2 linked regions of the Homo sapiens genome follow. The protein of the gene in region 2 interacts with the protein of the main gene of each other region in a pairwise test. Each region holds a gene or a part of one and is shown on either strand. Other genes may lie near its edges. The genes, in order: KDM8 and RCCD1.

What was found.
Region 1: the proteins of RCCD1 (region 2) and KDM8 interact in binary tests that used the Homo sapiens proteins (3 or more experiments, as listed by UniProt).

The regions. Positions count from the first base shown.
Region 1 is NC_000016.10:27,197,189-27,209,020, reverse strand, and holds the start of KDM8 (bifunctional peptidase and arginyl-hydroxylase JMJD5), read right to left. Parts: upstream 5,496-11,832; 5' UTR 5,385-5,495; intron 5,047-5,384; exon of another isoform or gene 4,929-5,046; coding exon of another isoform or gene 4,846-4,928; intron 1-4,845. UniProt on the Homo sapiens protein: Bifunctional enzyme that acts both as an endopeptidase and 2-oxoglutarate-dependent monooxygenase.
Region 2 is NC_000015.10:90,947,001-90,957,996, reverse strand, and holds the start of RCCD1 (RCC1 domain-containing protein 1), read right to left. Parts: upstream 3,114-10,996; 5' UTR 3,049-3,113; exon of another isoform or gene 2,114-3,048; intron 1,386-2,113; 5' UTR 1,263-1,385; coding exon 1,097-1,262; intron 885-1,096; coding exon 494-884; intron 394-493; coding exon 272-393; intron 1-271. Other genes in the region: UNC45A (protein unc-45 homolog A), read right to left, coding at 4,281-4,538, 4,687-4,842, 4,951-5,068, 7,382-7,497, 7,730-7,843, 8,277-8,343, 8,554-8,681, 9,203-9,343 and 2 more. UniProt on the Homo sapiens protein: Plays a role in transcriptional repression of satellite repeats, possibly by regulating H3K36 methylation levels in centromeric regions together with KDM8.

The sequences.
Region 1 (11,832 bases), on a different chromosome or scaffold from region 2:
TAAGTGGCAGTGTCTGCCCAGAACACTCATTGCCTTCAAGGGTGAGCTCTTTGGACTTTGTATCCACAGGGCTGAGCTTATAATGAGTTCATTTCCATTCTTGGTTCACAATGAACTTTCTTTCTAGCAAGCTCAGGGTATGGTAGGGCTCAGAGAGCCCCAGCCTGCCAGGGTGGGTTCTATCTCTAGCCTCCTAGAAGGCTTGTGTTGGCCTCATTCACAGCCTTCTTGGAGCGTTTCACAGTCCAATTTCCAGCATGGACTTATCCACTAGGCCAGCACAAGACACCACATGGGCCCATCCCTGGCCTCCCTGGGTGGCCTCCTGGCTCATCCCGTGTGTGGCTTACATGAATCTTATAGAGCAACATGGAGAAGTCTCATCTTGAGCATCCAAAAGACCTCAGGGGCCTCATATCCTGGCTTCTCATAAAGGCCAGTGGAAAGGCCTCCCAGGAGACCATTTATTGCCCTACTATAAAACTGGCTTCCACTGGGGCTCTATGTACCAGCTTTGTAAACCTGTCTCTTGATGGCCTTAGAAAACAGCCTCCCAGAGGGTTTCAAATGGGCTATAAACCTGTTCTCTGCAATGCAGATTACGGGCTTTGTAAATTGGTGTTTCAGGGTGACCTTATAAAACGGCCCCTCACAGGGCGCCTATCAGCCTTACCAAGCCAGCTTCTCAAGGTGGCCTCACGTGTGCGGCTTTGTAGCCAGGTTCCCCCAGTGGCCCCGTGTCTGCTTTGTCACCTGGCCTCCCAGGGTGGCCTCATGTTTGGTCTTCATAGGCGGCCTATCTGCTACTTTGCAAATCGGCCTTGGAGACCTCATGTTGAAGGCCAATGGACACAGCCTTCTGGGAAAGATGGCCTCCTAATACTGTGAGTTGGCTGTACAAAACTATCTGCTCTTGGCCACATGAAATAGCCTTATGATTATTCTTTAATGCAGAGTTCTTCAATGAACGGCCTTATCAAAAGGCCTTCAGAGATACTTACGTTGACAATATATGATGGTTTTCCAGAGACAGAGGCTTCAGGATGGCTGTATAAGTTTGTTTTCAAAATGGCTTTTCAGATTGCCTCTGTATAAGCCACTTGAAATGGCCTCCCCAAAGGCCTCAAGATTATTATACACTATCCCCCAGCAGGGCACCTATAATCCCAGCTACTCGGGAGTCTGAAACAGGAGGACTGCTTGAGCCCAAGAATTCGAGACCAGCCTGGGCAACATGTAAAGACCCTGTCTCTAAAAACAATTAAAAAATTAGTTAGCTGGTCATGGTGGCACACACCTGTAGCCCCAGCTACTCCGGGAGCTGAAGCAGGAAGATTGCTTGAGCTCAGGAGTTTAAGGCTGCAAGTGAACTGTGTTTGTGCCTCTGCACTCCCATCTGGGTGACAGAGTGAGACCCTGTTTCAAAAAATAAAACTATAGCCTCCTACAAGGCCTTATGTTGGCAGCATGGTGAAGTGGCATTCTGGCCGCATCAGTCTTCTGCCTTGTTGCATAGGCTTCCCCAAACCTCTCATGATTTGGCCTTTTATGTAGTTACCATATCAAACAGCCACATCCTGGTATAGGAAGCAGTCTTCCAAAGCAGTTTTGTGAGATGGAGTCTTGCTCTGTCACCCAGTCTGGAGTGCAGTGATGCGATCTCGGCTCACTGCAAACTCCACCTCCCAGGTTCAAGTGATTCTCCTGCCTCAGCCTCTGAGTAGCTGGGACCACAGGCACGCATGCCATCACGCCCGACTAATTTTTGTATTTTTAGTAGAGACGGGGTTTCGCCATGTTGGCCAGGCTGGTCTCCAACTCCTGACCACAAGTGATCCACCCACCTCAGCCTCCTAAAGTGCCGGGATTACAGGTGTGAGCCACCACGCCCGGCCCTTGTAACTTGTTTTAAAAACTGGCCTTCCTATAGATGGGGGCTTGTCTGAGGACCAGGTGAAGTCAGATTTTGTCTTAGTTTTACAAATCGATCTGTGGTTTCTTCATTGTGCCAGGAAAGAATTGTTTGTTGTGTCCATCTACCCCGCTGGGAGCAGCCTCACATTGGCTCCTGTTAGCCATGCAAAATGGCCTTACAGAAGGAGTCTTGGTCTGGCTGGGGAAACACTCTCTTGCTGGCTGTATGAAACAATCTTCCAGGGTCACTGGCCTCATGGGCTATGAGAAGCAGCCTTCACACCACCAACCACTTGAGATGGCCCTCCTGGGAAGGTCAGGTGCGAGCCACAGGTCACTGCCTTTCTGAATGGCCTCAGGTCCAGGCTCATCAGCCTTCTGGCATTTCCCATATACTGGTCTGATAAAAAGGCTTCTTGTTGTATCAAGAGGTTTTCTAGAGGAAAGGACTAGCCAGAGTAGCCTTATGGCCTGGCTTTATTGATTGGCTTCCCAGAACTCCTCACTGAATTGCTGTTTATAAAGTCTTATATTAAGGCCACGTGCATCGCTCACGCCTGTCATCCTAGCACTTTGGGAGGCTGAGGAGGGTGGATGACCTGAGGTCAGGAGCTCGAGACCAGCCTGGCCAACATGGTGAAAACCCATCTCTAATAAAAATACAAAAATTAGCCAGCGTGGTGGTCCACGCCTATAATCCCAGCTACTCGGGAGGCTGAGGTAGGAGAATTGCTTGAACCTGGGAGGCAGAGGTTGGGGTGAGCTGAGATCTAGCCACTGCACTCCAGCTTGGGTGACAGAGCAAGAGTCTGTCCCTCCCGAAAAAAAAAAAAAGCACACGCACACAAAAGGCTTACATTAAACAAACAGGCTTCCAAAGGAGGGAGTCAAGAATAAGATGTGTGACTTGCCAGTTCCCTGCAAGAAGAAAAAAGATGTGTGAAGCAGTCTTTGAGAGTGGTGCCACAGACTGGCCTTCGAGAGCTCTACATAAAAGGGTTTATTGGGAGTTGTACAGATAGCCTTCTAGTGGCCAGGTATAGGTGGGTCATCCAAACCAAGATGCTATTAATATTTATGTCTGCATCAGTAAAAAACTGGTGTTATTCTAGGCAAACTGACACCTACCGTAACCCAAATGTGGGCCATATCAAAAAGCCTGAGTGGCCTCGTATCTTCACTTTACAAATCAGTCTCCCAGAGCTCAACAGGTATTGGCCTTCAAAGACCTCTTGTTGATCACAGAAGGTTTTTTTATTTTTATTTTTTTTGAGACAGAGTCTTTCTGTCACTCAGGCTGGAGTGCAATGGTGCGATCCCGCCTCACTGCAACCTCTGCCTCTCAAGTTCAAGCAATTCTCCTGCCTCTGCCTTCTGAGTAGCTGGGATTACAGGTGCCCGCCACTGTGCCTGGCTAGTTTTTCTATTTTTAGTAGAGACGGGGTTTCACTCTGTTGCCCAGGCTGGTTTTGAACTCCTGACCTCAGGGTGATCTGCTTGGCTTCCCAAAGTGCTCAGATTACAGGTGTGAGCCGCCACGCCCGGCCCAGAGAAGGCTTTATTTATTTTTGTGGGGAGGGGGGCGGTCAGGTATAGAAACAGCTTGAGTGGGCTTATGTCCTGGCTTTGTGAACTGGCCTCATAACCTGGAACAGCTTTCAGGGGGAGATCAAGTGTGGGTTGCATAAAACAGCTTTTGAGTGGACTTGATTCAGCCCCTAAATGCTCCTTACATAAAGTCTTGTCTGCTGGTGTATGAAATGATCTTGCAAAGAAGGTCAGAATATAGGCTGTTATGTGCTAACCTCTGAGTGGTTTTTCTCCTGGATTTATAAATAAGACTAAAATGAATCTTATAAAAGCCTTCTTGTTGGTCGTACTAAACAAAAAGGAGCCAAGTATAACCTGTATAAAACAGCCGGAATAGACTCAGGCCTGGACTTTATAAATTCACCATCCAGGCAGAATTCACTATGCAAACTGGCAAAGTAGGTCCCTGGTAGGTTATGGGATATATCCCTCTTGGAAGCCACTGCCCTGTCATCCTAGGATTCTCTCAAATTATTTTTATTATTTTTTTTGAGACGGAGTCTCGCTCTGTCACCCAGGCTGGAGTGCACTGGCCCAATCTTGGCTCACTGCAACCTCCGCTTCCCAGGTTCAAGCAATTCTCCTGCCTCAGCCGCCCAAGCAGCTGTGATTACAGATGTGCACCACCACACTCAGCTAATTTTTTATTTTTAGTAGAGACGGGGTTGCGCCATGTTGGTCAGGCTGGTCTTGTGAACTCCTGACCTGAAGTGATCGGCCTGTCTCGGCCTCCCAAAGGGCTGGGATTACAGGTGTGAGGCACCGCGCCCAGCCTTAAATTATTTTTAAACATCAACTCCTCTAAAGCACCTCCCTGAGTATTCTTTAAGGTGGCTGGGTGGAATGGCCTCTCCGAGAGCCTCACTGTGATTTGCAGAGGGTCTCAGGGTGGGCACTCTGCAAGCACCATGCTGGTCATGAGAAAGCCTCCCAAAAGGGGCTTCCAGGACAGATCAGCCTACACCTAGCTTTCTGGGAACAGGCGGTCCAGTTCTCTAATCTCCTCAATGTTATTATGGCAGTATTCCACAAAAATTGTGCAAAAACAAGAGCTTCGTAAAACTTCCCAGGAAAGTTTGGAACATTTTCCAGAAAGCTTTAATTCATGGCACAGGGATCCCTTTGGCTCTCTAAGGGGCACACAGTCTTGTGTTTGGGTCGTCCGTGTGGCCCCAACGCCTGCGCACCTCCTGTCCCCGGGCTTGCTCCCGAGTCCTCCTGAGCACGGCGATTCCTACCGTTGCCGGGAAACGCACCGATGCCCATCGTTAAGTCCTACCGAGCTACAAGCACCTTTCCTTAGGGCAGTCACACACCCAGGCCCCAGAGGGTCCCCCGTACCCCGCACTGGCCTTGAGCCCCGAGGCCTCAGACCCCCTTCCCTCCTCAGCGCCTTCCCCGGGGCTGCATTTCTCGCGGCTCATATTTGGGACCTGACGGCGGAATCGTTTCCAGCCTGCCTTGCGGCCCAGGGGCAGCGGCTGGTTGCCTAAAAGCAGCGGACACACATATAGCAGAGTATAAAACCCGCGCAGGCGCACTAGGCCTACACCAACGCGACGCCAAGAACCGCTAAAGCGCACAGCAGCCCGCCGTAAGGGCCTGCCCTCACGCATGCGCAAAACCACTGCCAAGAGACGAGCATACGCACGCGCGGAACCTTTCCCTTTATCCTCCCGCAGGGCAGGCCGGCGACGAGCTAAATTGCATTCTCAGAGCGCATGCGGCAACTCGAGCCACCCTCGGGGTTTTCCAAGGCGCACGCGCGAGGCCGGGCTTGGCTGCTTCACATGACGCCTGCGCGGTCTATGCCTCTGAACCCGGCCTCTCCACTTCTGAGGAACTGGAGCTGACTCCGCTCTCGAGTTGCTCAGACTAACCTCTCTTCAGCTGGGACGGTGTCGAGTCGCCTTTGGGCTGGCGAAGACTCGTTGCGTTTGGTCCGACCACTCGGCTGTGTCCCCTGAGGAGCCAGAGGCTAGCATAGGAGTATCGATCGCTCACCGCTCGTCTGATCACGACGCAGTGCCTGGAGGAGCGCCGAGTGATCGATGCCGTGGCCCCGCCCCACTGCTGTTTAAAAGGCCGGGGGATGGAGAAGACAGAAAGGCTTGGCTGTATCCTCTGGGTCCTTCCACGCTAGTGATACCGCTTTTTCCTCTGCACAGATAACAACTTCGTACAAGGCTGTTTGCATCCACCATTTAATCTCTGCAGCTAGGATTATTAGTTCTCCCTATTTTACAGAGAGCGAAACTGAGGCTCAGTGATTAAAGTGGCCACATACTTGTACTTTTGGAAAGTCAGATCCACAATTACCCACGAGCAAGTGCTGCATCCACAGTCTGTTCGAGTGAGAAGGCAAGTGGCCAGGGGACACACTCCTGCCACCTTTGCTTTGATGCCGAGTGGTGCGTGGTCACTGGGACTTTTGTGTTTTGAGCACACACTCCTGTGGACTCCAAGTATGCACGCCTTTTGCAGCATTGCACAGAGGCATGGAAAGTTATGTTCGTACTGAGCTTGGGGTCTGAGTAGGAAACAGGCTTGCTCAGGATCAGTTCATAGATTAGTGGATTCTAGGTACGGTGCTAAAATACTTTAAAAATATGAGGATCGTAGCTATTGTAATGATCATGCTCATCCCCATTTTAGGGAGTGTATTAGTCCGCTTTCATGCTGCTGATAAAGACATACCCGAGACTGGGCAATTTACAAACAAAAAGGTTTAATGGATTCACAGTTCCACATGGCTGGGGAGGCCTCAAAATCATGGTGGAAGGTGAAAGGCACGTTTTACATGGTGGAAGACGAGATAATGAGAACCAAGTGAAAAGGGAAACCGCTTATAAAACCATCAGATCTCATGAGTCATATTCACTACCAGGAGAACAGTATGAGGGGAACCTCCCCTATCATTCAGTTATCTCCTACTGGGCCCTTCCGCAACACGGAATTATGGGAGCTACAATTCAAGATGAGATTTGGGTGGGGACACAGCCAAACCATATCAGGGAGGGAGCAAGTAAAGCACAGAAAGATCTCCTAACCCACCAGGCTCACTGGGATGCTGGTGTTTGAACTCAGCAGCCACAGGTTTAGAATCCTCATGGTTATGTGCTACACTAAGTTTCCACCCTTGAGTAGTGACAATGTTGAATTTTCCCTGAGTCTTGTGTCCCCGGAAAAAAGTAAAAAGGAATTGCTCTCACCCTTTTGTGTTGTGGAAAAAAGTTTACTGCAAAGAATCACCCCCCACCCCCACAAGAGAATTTAGATAAGACTCCAAGACACCACCCCCATTGTTTACCTGTGAGAGCAGGTAAACAGGACACAGACCCTCCAATTCTCATTCATTGTCTTATAAGTGATTACCTGAACTGCTTGTCCCACTAATCAATCCTTATAAAACGCTGGTCAACCACTTTGGTTAAGATTCTTTCCTTCCTCCAGGCCCCTGAACTTTGGCTCACCCTGGGCCTGGGCCAGCAGACAGCCCCTCCTCAGAATAGGCTGGCCTCAGGTTGATATATTCTCTGATCTACTAACCCATCATGTCACCCTTTCACCCCACTTCCAGGTTCTTTCTAGCCTTGTTTTCTTCTTCCTATGAAAGAAAAGCTCTTTTTGGCCTAACCCTTGTGGCCACAGTGTACTCTCTTTTGCAAGTCTCCCTTCCCCTGTTATAATAGTCCCTCCTGGCCAGGCGTGGTGGCTCACACCTGTAATCCCAGCACTTTGGGAGGCCGAGGCGGGCGGATCACGAGGTCAGGAGATTGAGACCATCCTGGCTAACACAGTGAAACCCCGTCTCTACTAAAAATACAAAAAATTACCCGGGTGTGGTCACGGGCACCTGTAGTCCCAGCTACTCGGGAGGCTGAGGCAGGAGAATGGTGTGAACCTGGGAGGCGGAGCTTGCAGTGGGCCGAGACACCGCACTCCAGCCTGGATGACAGAGCGAGACTCCGTCTCAAAAAAAAAAGAAAAAAAAGTCCCTCCTGCACCTTGCAATAATCCTTTCAAATAAAGCCACTCTTTTTTGTTTCCTTCAAATAGGATTTTTCTTTTTTATTTTTTTAAAATTATACTTTAAGTTTTGGTTTACATGTGCACAGCGTGCAGGTTTGTTACATACGTATACATGTGCCATGTTGGTTTGCTACACCCATCAACTTGTCATTTGCCTTAGGTATTTCTCCTAATGCCATCCCTCCCCCAGGACCCCACCCCCTGCCAGGCCCTAGTGTGTGATGTTCCCCTCCCTGTGTCTACGTGTTCTCATTGTTCAACTCTCACTTATGATTGAGGACATGTGGTGTTTGGTTTTCTCTTCTTGTGTTACTTTGCTGAGAATGATGGTTTCCATTTTCATCCATGTCCTTGCAAAGGACATGAACTCATCCTTTTTTATGGCTGCATAGTATTCCATGGTGCATATGTGCCACATTTTCTTTATCCAGTCTATCATTGATGGGCATTTGGGTTGGTTGCTATTGTGAACAGTGCTGCAAAAAACATACGTGTGCATGTGTCTTTATAGTAGAATGTACAAAAATCACAAGCATTCCTATACACCAATACCAGACAAACCGAGAGTCAAATCATGAGTGAACTCCCATTCAATAAAATACCTAGGAATCCAACTTACAAGGGATGTGAAGGACCTCTTCAAGGAGAACTACAAACCACTGCTCAAGGAAATAAAAGAGGACACAAACAAATGCAAGAACATTCCATGCTCATGGATAGGAAGAATCAATATCATGAAAATGGCCATACTGCCCAAAGTAATTTATAGATTCAATGCTATCCCCATCAAGCCACCACTGACTTTCTTCACAGAATTGGAAAAAACTACTTTAAACTTCATGTGGAACCAAAAAAGAGCCTGCATAGCCAAGACAATCCTAAGCAAAAAGAACAAAGCTGGAGGCATCATGCTACCTGACTTCAAACTGTACTACAAGGCTATAGTAACCAAAACAGCATGGTACTGGTACCAAAACAGATATATAGACCAATGGAACAGAACAGAGGCCTCAGAAATAACACCACACATCTACAACTATCTGATCTTTGACACACCTGACAAAAACAAGCAATGGGGAAAGGATTCCCTATTTAATAAATCGTGCTGCGAAAACTGGCTAGCCATATGCAGAAAGCTGAAACTGGATCTCTACCTTACACCTTATACAAAAATTAATTCAAGATGGATTAAAGACTTAAACATAAGACCTAAAACCATAGAAGCTGTAGAAGAAAACCTAGGCAATACCATTCAGGACATAGGGATGGGAAAAGCCACTCTTTACTAGATCTGAATTTGTTTTGACAGTGGATGGGCAGTTACTCTACAGAGACTACAGTAGGGCGGGCACTAGAATCTCCAACTTGCCCAGACAGGCACCACAGCAAGGACCAAAGGAGATTTGACCTGGGACCCCCTGATTCCAGAAGCCACAGTGTTCAGGAACTGGCTGTTAATGGTGGGTATGGAGTGCTGCCAGTCAGGCAGAGACAAACACCCCTTTTACCAGCTTGTTTGTGTTTTCAAAACTGGCTTGTTGAAATGAATTACAGGCGCAGATGAAATGTTTTCTTAAAAGAACCACAATTTTTCACCACAGGGTTTCACTTCCTGTAGTCTCTTTGCCAGTCCCTCCACCTCCTGTCATTCCCAGCAGCCTTAGAATTGGCCATTAAGCTGACAGACCCATTTGAATGCTGCAAAAGCCACTGAACAGAAAAAGGCATCATTTAGGCCCATATTTGTGATTTTTCTCCATTTGATCAGAAGCCTGTAATTTAAATATATCCAAGTGTGCTGGGAGCATTCGTGACTTAATTATCAAATTTATTTAAAATATATACATACAAACAAAGCTCCAAACTTGCAAACAACGTGTAGCTTGGCCATGAAAGAGACATTTAATTTACTTCAATTGCTTAAAAATAGACATGAAAACCTCCCATGTCTTGGCTCTTCCACTGATGCCACCTGGATTTTCCAGGTGGAGGGTCTGCTCACTTAGTTATTCTGTGCTTTCAATTTCATTTCAGCATGTGACCTTCAGCCGGGAGCTAGCAAGCCTAAAATGACCTTGCGTGAAGACTCAGAGCAAAATACCAGGTGTTTTGTTGAGTGGGTTCCCCTGGGGTACAAGCAAATAGCCCCCAACATAAAGTAAGGCAGACCGGGATACTTTCTGTCTGAGCCTCAGTGTCCACCTCTGAAGTGGCTATGTTGTCTGGGATATATACCCTGGGGTTCATTGTTGCAGCCAGGAAAATTTAGGACATGGACACACATGAGGAGGTTAGGAGCGGAGGTTTAATAGGTAGAAGAGGAGAGAAAGAGAAACAGCTTCCTCTATCGAGGAAGGGGTGTCTCAGTGGGAAAGACTGGTTGGCAGCAAATGCGCAAATTTTATAGTCCAGTTTGAGGAGGCGGTGTCTGATTTACATGGGGCTCATAGATTGGTTAGATCAAGTGTGACGTTTACATAGTGCGTGCAGAAGGCTAGTCACCTCACCCTAATCTTATTATGCAAATGGGCTTTCCAGTTGATCAGCGCCATCTTGTCTGCTTCTTACAGTACATGTGGCTGGCAGAGAAGGGAAGATGGAGCCACCATCTTGAAAATGTCTAGTTGTTAGTTCCTGCCCTCATTCACCCATGCAAGCTCCCAGCTTGCTTGTCTATATCTGCAGCTCAACTTTACAGGCTGCTCTTTGTTAGAAAATGATTTGGGGCTGCTTTTCATGAAAAAGAAAGGCCTTTTACAAGGGTAAAAGGCTATCTGCATAAGTGATTTCTTCTTAACTTCTATGTCGTCTTCATGAAATAGGTATTGTGAACCCTAAATAGCCGAGACAGGTCTCAGTCGATTTAGGAAGTTTATTTTGCCAAAGTTAAGGACGGGCCTGTGACACAGCCTCAGGAGGTCCTGATGACATGTGCCGAAGGTGGTTGGGGCACAGCTTAGTTTTATCCATTCTAGGGAGACATGAGACATCAATCAATATGTGTGAGATGTACATTGGTTTGGTCTGGAAAGGCAGGACAACTCGAAGGAGGGAAGGGGCTTCCAGGTCATAGGTGGATAAGTGACAAATTGTTGCATTCTTTTGAGTTTCTGATTAGCCTTTCCAAAGGAATCCATCAGATATGCATTTCTCTCAGTGAGCGGAGGGGTGACTGTGAGTTCTGTCTGTCCTGAGTCCATAAGAAAATCCCTTGTGGACAAATTGTGAGGAGGTATGTAGCTTTTTTATCTTACTAGCCATCTTCTTTAGGAATGGAATAGGAGGCAGGTTTGCCCTAAGCCGTTCCCAGCTTGACTTTTCCCTTTGGCTTAGTGATTTTGGGATCCTGAGATTTATTTTCCTTTCACAGTATGATAACCGACCTCCCCAGGAGGTAGTGATGGTTAGATAAGGCAGTTAAATGTCTCAAGCTACACTCTCTGTTCTTCCCTCTGTCCCAGAATCTATTTATTCCAACCCTCCACTCACCTGCTGGTAATGGCACAGGCTGCCCTTCCGGTTCTGTGTCCAAGGACCCCTGTGGGCAGTGTGGAAATTCTTAAAATATAGGTTCTTGGGTACTGCTTCTGGATATTTCGATTCAGTAGTTCTGGAGTCAGGTCCAGCTACCAGCCAGCAGCCTGGCCAGGGTTTTGCATTTTCACTAGCTTTCCAGAAAACACAGAGGGAGATGGCACCCACATTTTTGGAAATGTAGCCGATGCCTGGAGAAGTGTTACCCAGACTATGTTACCCAGGCTGGTCTCAAACTCCTGGCTTCAAGTGGTCCCCCTGCCTCAGTCTCCCAAAGTGCCGGGATTACAGGAATGAGTTACGGCAGCTGACAGAGAATCTATTACTTGATGGGAGAGGCTTTAAGTCACATGTCAGAAGGCTTGGGTATGGATGAAGGATGATGTCAAATTTTGGTGCGATTTTTGCAGTGGACAAACACACAAATCCCTGCCCATGTTCTAGTGGCGGGAAACAGGAAATTAGAAAATTATGTGCATTGTTATATATATTATGACTCAAGCAGGGGAAGGGGGACAATGGTGCTATATGTGTGTGTGGTGAGGGCTGCTGGTTTGCATGGAGTGCTCAAATCCTCTCTGATAAGGTGACACCTGAGCTGCAACCTGAAGGAGGTGAGAGAGTAAGTCATATGGGGCCATGTGTGGGAAGACAGTTCCAGGCACAGGGAACAGCAGGTGTGCTGGGCATCTAAAGAAGGAGCACAGAGGTCATCGTGGTTGGTGGTGGGGAGCAAAAGCTGGGGAGTAGAAGCTGATGACG
Region 2 (10,996 bases):
TCCTGGCTGGGAGCAGGTGGGGAGAGGAGGGGAGGGGCAGTGAGACCAGTAACAGAGAAGCTAGGAACAAATGCCAGAGTCCAGGCGTGAGTGGGCCATGGTGCAGGCAGAGGAGGCCGAGGGTGAGAGGCATTTAGGAGTCATAACTGACTGGGCGATGGATGGATGAATTTGGAAGGAGGCCTGGGTAGGCCCCCACCCAAACTGGAAAACGAGGAGGAAGGTTTGCACAAGATCATGAGCTCGTCTGGAGAAGCACTAAGTCACTCACCACTCACACACACAGAATGCCAGCCCCCCGCGGCCACCTCAGCCATGACTAGGCCCTGCAACGCCTCCAACAGCCGTGGCTCCAGCTCTGCCTCCAGGGTCCCATGGCCCAGCTGTCCATGCCTGAGCAAGGGAGACCGTCGTCAGCTACAGTCGCATTAAGGGGTCCCGCTCCGCTTGCTTCTCCAATCAGCAGCCCTCACCTGCCCCCGCCTCCGCTCACCTGCCCCCGCCCCAGGAGAACACCTGGCCAGCAGCGTCCAGCAGCAACGCGTGCTCGGCGCCCAGCTCCAGCTGGCGTGCCCGCAGCTCCGGAGCCAGAGGCCGGTAGAAGGGCGCCCGCGGGCTCACGTAGGCACGGGCGCAGGGCAGCAGGGGTAGCCTCCCAGCCTGGGCCTCACCGGCCGGATCGTCTTCCCCTTCGGCCTCGGGCACCACATTCTGGGCCCACAATGGCTCCCCACGCAGCGCCGATTCGGCCGCCCAGACCTGCAGTAACGCCTCCGGCCCCGGCCCGGCGCGCAGCACCGCGAGGAGCCCCTCCGAGGCCCACGCGTCCTTGCAGCGGCCCGCCGCGCCGCTGGCTGAGCCCGACAGCTCCAAGCGGCCTCCACCTGCGGGGCGGATTGGAGCAGGGTGGCCAGAATGGAGGCGGCGGGGATGGGGGGAGCGGGGTGTTCCTGGGAAGGGGTCGAATTGGGGACCAACCCAGAATGTGGGGCTGGCGGCCTGAACGGGGGAGACAAACTGGACTGGCCACAGCGGTGCGGGGAGGCGACTGGGGAGCGCGGCTGGAATAAGTGGGGACGGGGCGGGGAGTGCTCACGGGTCACGAAAGCGGTGTAGCTCCAGCTCGCGCTCACGCGGCAGATGTCGACGCCCGCCCGCAGCGGACTGGGGCTGTGCACCTGGCGCCCGCGTCCGGAGCCCAGCTCCTGCCCGAAGCCGCAGAAACCGAAGCCGAACCAGGCCCCCGGCCGCTCCTCCGCCATGCCCGAGCAGCGCCCTCTGCCGGCCGCCGCCTGGCTGCGGCGGGCCCGGGGGGATTCTTGCGAAGAGCCCGCTAGTGGGACACTGGCAAGTCTCTGGCCTTCCAGGGGCTGGAGCTGCCTTATCTGTAAAATGGAGAAACTATCATTCTCCCGACCACAAAGGCAGAGTCCGTGCCACGAAGGTTCGCTGAGCAGGCGCCCTGACTAATGCCCTACCGGATTTACAAAGATGCTCAAATATTTAGAGGCACTTTCCCTGTCCTCCCTTTTGGCTCAAGCTCAGCGTGCCACAAAGTGGGTACGAAGTGGCCTGTCCTTTAGGCATTGGACTAGGATCCGAGCGCCCCCGACACCCCCACCCCGTCCCGCAGCTTCCCAGCATCTGGCACTTTATCCCATGTAATCTTGGGAACCAAAATGGTCGTTTTACAGAGGAGATTCTGAGACAAAGTAACCCTTACACACTCATACAGCCAGACAGAGAGGGGCAGAGCGCTGAAATCAGGTCCCACCAACTCCACACACAGTGCTCTGCCCCTCTCCCCACAGCGGAACGCAGAAGAGCGTTTGGGAGGCAGTGCCTCTGCAACTCAGCGGGGCCTTGGGACCGCAGCCAATCCACCTGAGTCCAACTGCGTTTCTTCAGTTTACAAAGGGAGGTGGGGGCGGTGCTGTTTGAACCTTCCTCACAGAATTGTAATAAATGCAAATAAAGGGTTTGGTGCGAGTACATGCCATGATAAACACACAGTATTAGCTTACTGAATCCAGTATTTAGTGTTGACAAAAAAATTATCCCTGGACATCTTACTGGTTTTGAGAAACTTATACAGACAGAATTTCAACTGTACCTTATCTAGCCATTTATTCGTCCAGCGAGCATTTACTGAGCGCTCCTCCTCTGCCAGTGAGGACAGCTGTCTGCTCCCAAGGAGCTAACCGTTAAATGGGGAGACAAACAGTCTGGTGGTTACAACAGCAACGCCAACTTCAAGCAGATTCGGCTGGAGCGGGTTTGTTTTTTTTTTTTTTTAATATAATAGAGACAGGGGTCTCGCTATGCTGCCCAGGCTGGTCTCAAATTCCTGGGCTCGAGTGATCCGCCCGCCTCGGCCTCCCAAAGCGTTGGGATTACAGGCGTGAGCCGCTGCACCCGGGCTGAAGCAGAATTGCATGGGCATTTTCAGGCCTCTTAAGTCAGATCCTGGGTCTCTCCTGAGACCCCAGTTCCTGGGCTCCTAACCCCTTCCGTGTCCTCTCCCAACCCAAGGGGGCCTCTGACCTTGATCTTGACCCTATGCCCTCTACCCTCTCGGGCAGGTCCTTCTGGTGGGCAGCCTTGGAGGAAACGCCGAGGCGCAGAGCGGCCGCCTCCGGAAAGGCCTCCCGCCCAGCGGGCGCCGACAGCCACGGGGAGAAAAGGTTTGAAGGGCGCGCGGCGCGAGGCGGCCAATCACCAGCAAGGGCGGTGACGTCGCCGCCCGGGGCGCGGCGGCCGCAGCCCTGTTCAACTCCCCTTGAGGGCCTCTCCGGTCCCGAGGCCTACGCCGGGGCCCTGCGGCCCGGTCTGTGAAATGGGCTGAAACCTCCGAGGGGCGTTGGACCAAGGCCCTGGAGGAAACCGGGGGCGTTGGACCAAGGCAGAGGTTGGGCCAGGTGGTCCCGCCCCTGCAGGAACCCGTGGGGCTGGAGCTCGGATTAGAACCACAGAGAGGACATTCATTAAGACTTGAGCTAAAGGTTTGGCGAGGAGTGACGCCCAAGACGGGCGGACCCCGCCACCCACCTCAGTCCCGGGACCGCGGCAGCTCAAAACCCGACACGCGCCGGACTCATGCCCCAACAGGAAGCAGCTTTTACCTTCCACGGATTGGCTCAGGACCCGTCACGTGCCTCTGTCGAGCCAACGAGCCTCACGCTGGGCTTAGCCCTCCTCGAACGTGCTGGGGTGGTGGGCGGGGCCCAAGCCGCCCTTCAACCAGGCTCAGCTGGCCACCAACCCCAACCCCCGCCCCAGCGCCCTCAGCGGAGGCCACAGAGGACTCCCAATATAAAGACAAACGTACTGAAGGCCCAGCATATGGGAGTCTCTACCCTAAACGACTTATTTCTTGGGATAGTTTAATATTTTTTGAGATAGGGTCTCGCTGTGTCGCCCAGGCGACACTTTGGGAGGCTGCGCTCTGGGCTCACTGCAACCTTCGCCTACCGAGTAGCTGGGATTACAGGTGCATGCCGCCACACTCTGCTCTTTTTTTTTTTTTTTTTTTTTTTTTGGTATTTTTATAGAGAAAGAGTTTTGCTTGTTGCCCAGGCTGGTCTCGAACCCCTGACTTCAAGTGATCCACCTGCCTCAGCCTCCCAAAGCGCTGGGATTACAAGCTTGAGGCACCGCACCTGGTGAGTTTCTTATTGATTAGCTTCCTAGGCTTACCCTTTGTCCCTCCAGTAGGATTAAGAAGCAACTCAGTGGGCCCTGGTTGGGGAATCCATTGGATTCCTTCCATGGAGGTGGGTCTGCCACTGTGAAGCTCCGTTGCACACTCACCCACGCCCAGCTCACACCCATACTCACCCACACTCACCCACTCAGAGACTCCCACTCACAGCAGCCCTCCCTGCCCAAGGACAGGGCACACAGTGGAGTTCTACACACTTTTATTGGAGGGGCAGGCCTGATAGCAGGCTCACAGCTGGTGAGGCTGCTGATGTGTGCGCCCTTCCAGATGCCCCAGGATCCACAGGCTGTGTTGGGATGCACCTTCCCCATTCCCAGCTGACTACAGTAGTACAGAAAAAGGGCCCCTCTGAGTGAGGCTGCAGGCAGTGCTGGCCAAGCAGGGCTGTGTGACTGAACGTGGCCGCTGACTCAGAACAGAGGACATCCTAGGGCAGCAAGCGAGGATGGGCAAGAGTATTGGGCATGCCAGCCACCACCAGCCAAAGCTGCTTCCGTCCTTACTCTCCGTGCCACAATAGGTAGCGTGTGCATGAGCCTTGGGCCCAGGGACAACCCCCTCACTCTCCATCTTGGTTGGGTTGGATAAGCCCATATTCCACTGCTTTGTCCAGGCAGGCTGCAGCAGCCCTTGTGACAGGGCTGTGGTCACCCTTAGCTAGCACTGACAAGATCTCCATCATCTCACTCTCCATCAGGGTGCTGGCAATCTCCCTCGAGGCCTCCACCATGTTCAGCACCACCACAGCACCCCGGTGCTGCAGCTCCTGGTTGGAGCTCAGAAGCAGGGCCTGCAGGATCTCCAGCCAGTGTGTGGTCTGTGAGAAAAACAGGGTAGATATGACCCCTGGGCAACAGGCTCAACCTTGGCAAGGGACACACCCACACACCCTAGGACTGCCCCCTTCAGCTGCTGCTGGGAGTTCCTGGTCCGTCCCTCCTCCCCCACTGAGAAGAGGCACTGACCACTTGGGGAATGCGGCTGCAGAGCGTGGGCCGCATGGAGGTAAGCATGGCCAAGCCCCCGGCAGCTGCCCGCTGTAGCAGCTCATCATCCTCTCCACTGTACAGCACCAGCAGCTTCAGTCGGTCATTGCCCTGGGCTTCGAAGAGGTCCTGCACCTGTGGCCAGATGTGAGGAGTGGACCAAGTCAGTTGGGTGTAAAGCCCAGCCAGGGCACAGGTACCTCTGCATCCCCGCCTGTCATGAGCACCCAGACCAACCCTCACCTCCTTGCTCATGGCCAAGTTACACATGCACTCCGTGGCTGCCCGGCGGATCATCTCATGCTCCTCAAACATGTAGCCTTCTATCATGGGCACAGCCTTCTCCTTCAGGATCTTCTGCCTGCAGGGCCACAGGAGGAAGCAGCAGGGATACGGTTTGGATGTTTTCCCTTCTAACCCTCATGTTGAACTATAATCCCCAATGTTGGAGGTAGGGCCTGGTGGGAGGTGACTGGGTCATGGGATGGGTCCCTCATGGCTTGGTGCTATCCTCGTGATAGTAAGTTCTCGTGAGATCTGGTTATTTAAAAGTGCGTGGCATCTCGGCCGGGCGTGGAGGCTCACGCCTGTAATCCCAGCACTCTGGAAGGCCGAGGCAGGCAGATGACTTGAGGTCAAGAGTTCGAGACCAGCCTGGCCAACATGGTGAAACCTTGTCTCTACTAAAAAGACAAAAAAAAATTAGCTGGGTATGCTGGTGCGCGCCTGTAGTCCCAGCTACTCAGGGAGGCTGAGGCAGGAGAAGCGATTGAACCCAGGAGGTGAAGGTTGCAGTGAGCCAAGATTGCGCCACTGCACTCCAGCCTGGGCAACAGAGGGAGACTCCATTTCAAAAAAAAAAAAAGTGTGTGGCACCTCCCCCGACTGTCTCTTGCTCCTACTTTCACCATGTGATGTGCCTGCTCCTGCTTTGCCTTCTACTATGAGTAAAAGCTCTCTGAGGCCTCCCCAGAAGCTGAGCAAATGCCAATGCCATGCTTACACAGCCTGTAGAGCCAGGAAGCAATTAAATCTCTTTTCTTTATAAATTACCCAGTCTCAGGTATTCCTTTACAGCAATGCAAGAACAGACTAACACCGGCAGCATCATCAGAGTTTCTACATCTGCTCCACCCCTGCACCCACACCCTCATGCAATCAAGTCCTGGGCTGAGGATTTCCCTTGGCAATGTCCAAGGACCCTCTTGCACCAGGTATGAACTACAGTGCTTCTTAGCCTTCTAACCAGGCCTAGGAAATAGCATAGGATTGTGGGAAATGCTCAAAATTAGGATGTAGAAGACCAGGGTGGTCGTGATGGTGAGGCTAACACCTAACATTTGAGGGTTTTTGTTTCTGTGTTTTTTTGAGGCAGGATCTCACTCTGTCACCTAGGCTGGAGTAAAGTGGCATGATCACAGCTCACTGCTGTAGCCTTGACCCCCCCAGGCTCAAGTGATCCTCCTGCCTCAGCCTCTCGAGTAGCTGGGACTACAGGTGCACGCCACCACACCTTGCAAATTTTTTTTCCAACTGTTAAGTTCAGGGGTACATGTGCAGGACGTGCAGGTTTGTTACACAGGTAACCATGTGCCGTTGTGGTTTACCGCACAGATCATCCCATCACCCAGGTATTAAGCCCAGCATGCATTAGCTATTCTTCCTGATATTCTCTTTAATTTCTTTTTTAAATAGGGACGAGGTATTGCTACACTGCTCAGGCTGGCCTGAACTTCTGGGCTCCAGTGATCCTCCTGCCTCATCCTCCCAAATTGCCAGGATTACAGGTGTGAGCCACCACGCCCGGCCTCATTTGAGTATTTACCCTGACCAGGCACCTGGATCATCTTACTTAATTCTCACCATGGCCCTATACTAAAGGTGCAAGTGTGATCATCATCACTACTGTTTTGCAGAATAGGAAACGGGCTAAGTAATGAGTAATATGTTCAAAGTCACAGTTAGTAATAAAACTAAAACATGCTGGCCAGCTGCAGTGGCTCACACCTGTAATCCCAGCACTTTGGGAGGCTGAGGTGGGCGGATCACGAGGTCAGGAGATCTAGACCAGCCTGACCAACATGGTAAAGCGCCATCTCTACAAAAATACAAAAATTAGCCAGGCGCGGTAGCACGTGCCTATAATCCCAGCTACTCAGGAGGCTGAGGCAGGAGAATCGCTTGAACCTGGGAGGCAGAGGTTGCGGTGAGCTGAGATCATGCCACTGCCCTCTAGGCTGGGTGACAGAGCAAGACTCCGTCTCAAAGAAAAAAAAAAACTAAAATATACTGATATGGCACAATGCTAGGGGCCAGGTACCCATGTAGTAAGTACTTTTAGGTGTATTTTCTCATTTTATTCTCCTCATCACTATGCCATGAGGTAGGTACTATAATCATCCCATTTCACAGAGGGAGAAACTGAGACAGAGCAGTTAAGTAACTTGCTTGAGGTTGCCCATTTGCAATCAGGGAAGCGAGGCAGTCTGACTCTAGAGTCTGCCGTGCCGTGCTGCCTCTTGGCCTGTCGCCTCCTCTCTAATGATGCGGAGCAGTCACTGTGAGGCTCACAGAAGCCCATGACCAAGGAGTGTTTCCCAATGTGTAAACTGCTGTGGGGGATATTCCGAATCCCGATGCCTGGTCCAGGCCCCGCAATCCCAAGGGACCTTACCGGAGCCTCTCGCTGATCCCAGCCAGGTTTGTTAGGGCCATGAGCGCCTCGAAGTTCTGCAGGCCTGAGCAGTTGAGGTGCAACAGGGAGACGAGGGGCCGGACCACCTCATAGATCTGCAATGTGCACCCCACCTGTCAGGGGTACTTGCCGCAGCCCCCACAAGCCCCACCAACCCTGCAGGGAGAAGCCCACCCCCAAGAGAGTACTGCTGTCTCAGGCTGTCCTCCCTGCCCCAGGCCTTGACAAAGCTGAAACTTCCTGCTGGTCCCAAAGGGGAGCTACAGCCCAGCCCACAGGCCATCAGGGACAGAGGGAGTGGAAAGGCCGGGGCAGGAAGACACGTACCCGCTCGCCAGGGAAGGTCATCTCCGGGTTGGAGGTGATGGTGAGCTTGGCAAGGGCCTGGGCTGCCTTTGTCTGCCCCACGTCCGTGCCTTCCAGGGCCAGCGGGATCAGCGCCTGTAGGAACAAGCCCGTCACTGCTCAGGACATCCCTGGGAGTAAGACCCCGACCATCGGGCTCCCCAGCCCTGACCGTGCCACCCTCACCTTCCTCCCTCTCCCCAGGCTTGACTCCCTGTGCAGACCCTCTGCATCCAAACACTTCCTGAAACACCTAATAAGGGCTGGACATGGATTGTGCTGAGCACCAGGGCCATGGGGGTAAATGAGACAAAGGAACAGTAGAGCCTAGGACCTTCACAGGCACCAGTGTGGAGGGGCCAAGGAGCTTGCCTGCTTCCGCGTCACTCTCTCAGCGGGACGGTGTTCCTCTGGCCATTAATGTTTTTCTGTTCCATATCTAACACCCAGCTCTGGCGTGGCAGCTGCTGAGTCATGTTTTATAGGCTGATGGCTCAGCCATCAGGAAGGGGTGTGTAAACCAGCTTACCCTGCCGCCTCCCTGGGCAACCACAGTGCCTCGGTCCTCTACCTCTTCCACTAAAGCCAAGAAGACCCTGTGGGGAGAAGGCGGTGGTGGGCAGGCAGCTCTGGGACTCTGGCAGGCAGACGCTGCACTCCTAGGCTCAGCAAAGACGGCAGCCACGCAGGCAGCCCCCGTCGCTCTAAGAGGCCCACAGCACTGGAACCTGCACCCTCTGGAGCCACATCTGCAGCCCTGAGGCTCAGGAGTTGGGAAAGGTTGGCTCCTACCAAGGCTGGCTCACCTGGAGAGCAGCTCTCTGCAGGAACTGGTCAGCACAGGGCTCTCCGTCTTCACCATGCACACCATGGCCGACACCACACCCGCTGCCAGCAGCTTCTTCACCCGAGCCCGCACGAAGCTTGGCTTGTCCTGGGGGAGGAGGCAGCTTAGGAGAGGGGCCTAGGCTGACTCACAGAGAAAGGGGGACCCTTCTCACAGCAGTAATTGAGGAACTGGGAAATAAAACAGCCAGACAAAAGGAAACAAACTGGCTTAAAAGGGAGGCTGTTGGCTGGGCACGGTGGCTCACACCTGTAATCCCAGCACTTTGGGAGGCTGAGGCAGGCGGATCACGAGGTCAGGAGATCGAGATCATCCTGGCTAACACGGTGAAACACTGTCTCCACTAAAAATACAAAAAATTAGCCAGGCATGGTGGCGGGCACCTGTAGTCCCAGCTACTCGGGAGGCTGAGGCAGGAGAATGGCATGAACCCGGGAGGCGGAGCTTGCAGTGAGCCGAGATCGCATCACTGCACTCCAGCCTGGGAGACAGTGAGACTCCATCTCAAAAAAAAAAAAAAAAAAAAAGGGAGGTTGTTCTGCTGTGGATGCCCTGGGTTAGCTGTCCCCATGGTGGGGAACCCTCTAGCCCCTCTGGCGGCCCCTCACCTTGGGGTGCTGCTCGGGCACATGCTGCTTGGCATACTTGGCCAGCTCCACCATCTTGGGGTCGGGCTCCTCGTAGTCATAGCTGTTGGTGCAGTTCACCAGCGCTGAGGCCACCGCAAAGAGCACTGACCTCTCCTCCAACTGCCAGGACACAGAGGAATTCACATGGGCATCCCGGGGCAGAGCAGTACTCAGATAAATGCTGCCCAGGCCCAGGCCCCCAATTCCACCCTCAGCTGGGACCCTTGGGTACAGGATGAATTCGGGAAACTCCCAGGCCCCAGACTTTGGGAGCTTACAAACTTGACCTCCCCAGCTCCTCCAAGAAGAACGTCCTTGCTAACACCACTGGTGCTGGCCAACATGCCCACACTACACAGAGCAGCCACTCAGCCACCAGCCCTCTTCCCTGGGGTCAAAAGACCCCATTGGCCAAGCCCTGCCGAGAAAGCCTGGTAAGGTCTAATCCTAGACAGTGTCCCCAGGCTGACGGCAGGAACCACAGAGCTACCCTGCTGAGCTGGAACAGAGCTTTCAGAGCAGCCGCATCCTCCACAAACTCTTCCTTCACGTCGGCATCAAAGGTCAGGTAAGCCAGGCCCTCCACTGCCCAGCGCCGAGTGCCTGCGTCGATCTGGTCATTGCACAGCCACCTGGGGACACGCAGGATAGTGGACGACCCTCAGGATTGGGGGTACGGAGGGGTACACCAAGGCCAAGGGGGAAAAACCAAGGGTTTGGGCATCCCCTCAATGTACAGAAGCAGTTCACGTACCAGGATCCAGACTGCAGCCCCTGCCTGAGCCAGAGAGCAGGACGGAGGAGGCCCCAACCCCCACCCAGACCCCTGTGTCTTGAGATCTACCCCACAGGTGGGGAACCACAGCAAGGCCAGATGACTCACTTTCGACACTGCTTAGCCAGTTTGAGAGTGGAGCCTTCAGCAAACTGCTTCATGCTGAAGTCAGTCCCTCCAGCCGAACCGAGCTTACAGAGTCCCTGGAGGAAGAGGGCAAGACCAGTTGGCCTCTGGGGAAGGAGGCAGGAGCTGAGCTCCTCCACACCTGGCTTGGACTCCCTCCCTGGCACTCTGCCATGGCCCCCTGGAAGCTACACAGACAAATCAGCACCCTCTCCCTCCAGACCACCACCTAGAGCATGTGGCAAGAAAATCAGCTACTGGGGTGGCCGCATGACACAGCATCTGCAGACACTGATGCGCTGGCCGCTGGACAGTCGTGGGCCCCACCCCTTCCCAGGCCACACTGAGAATGGCTCTGTTTCCTTCCATGTCGCACAAAGAAGCCCTCTGCAGGTGGAGTTGAGAGGCATGTGGGGAGAGGACAGGTGCTTCAGCCACAGCCAAATCCTTATGGGATGGAGAAATCCAGGACTGAGTGCCCCAGGGAGGAAGACCAGCTTCCACAGGGTGCACAGCCACAACAGGCTCATGGAGGGCCAGGTAGTCCCCAAACCCCCAAACCACCAGCTCCCAGGAACACTGCATGACCCCTGCAGGCCCAGTCTTAAGCCCCATGGAGGGAGGAGCCATGCCGATGTCTCTCACCACAAGAAAGCCCAGAATCTCGTTCATTCATCCATTTATTTTAGAGAGGGTCTTGCTGTGTTGCCCAGGCAGGAGTGCAGTGACATGCGTGACTCACCACAGCCTCAACCTCCTGAGCTCAAGTGATCCTCCTGCCTCAGCCTCCCAAGTAGCTGGACCTATAGGCATGCACCACCAAGCCTAGCTAATTTTTTTGGCATTACAGTATTCCTTATTTTCATCTGGAG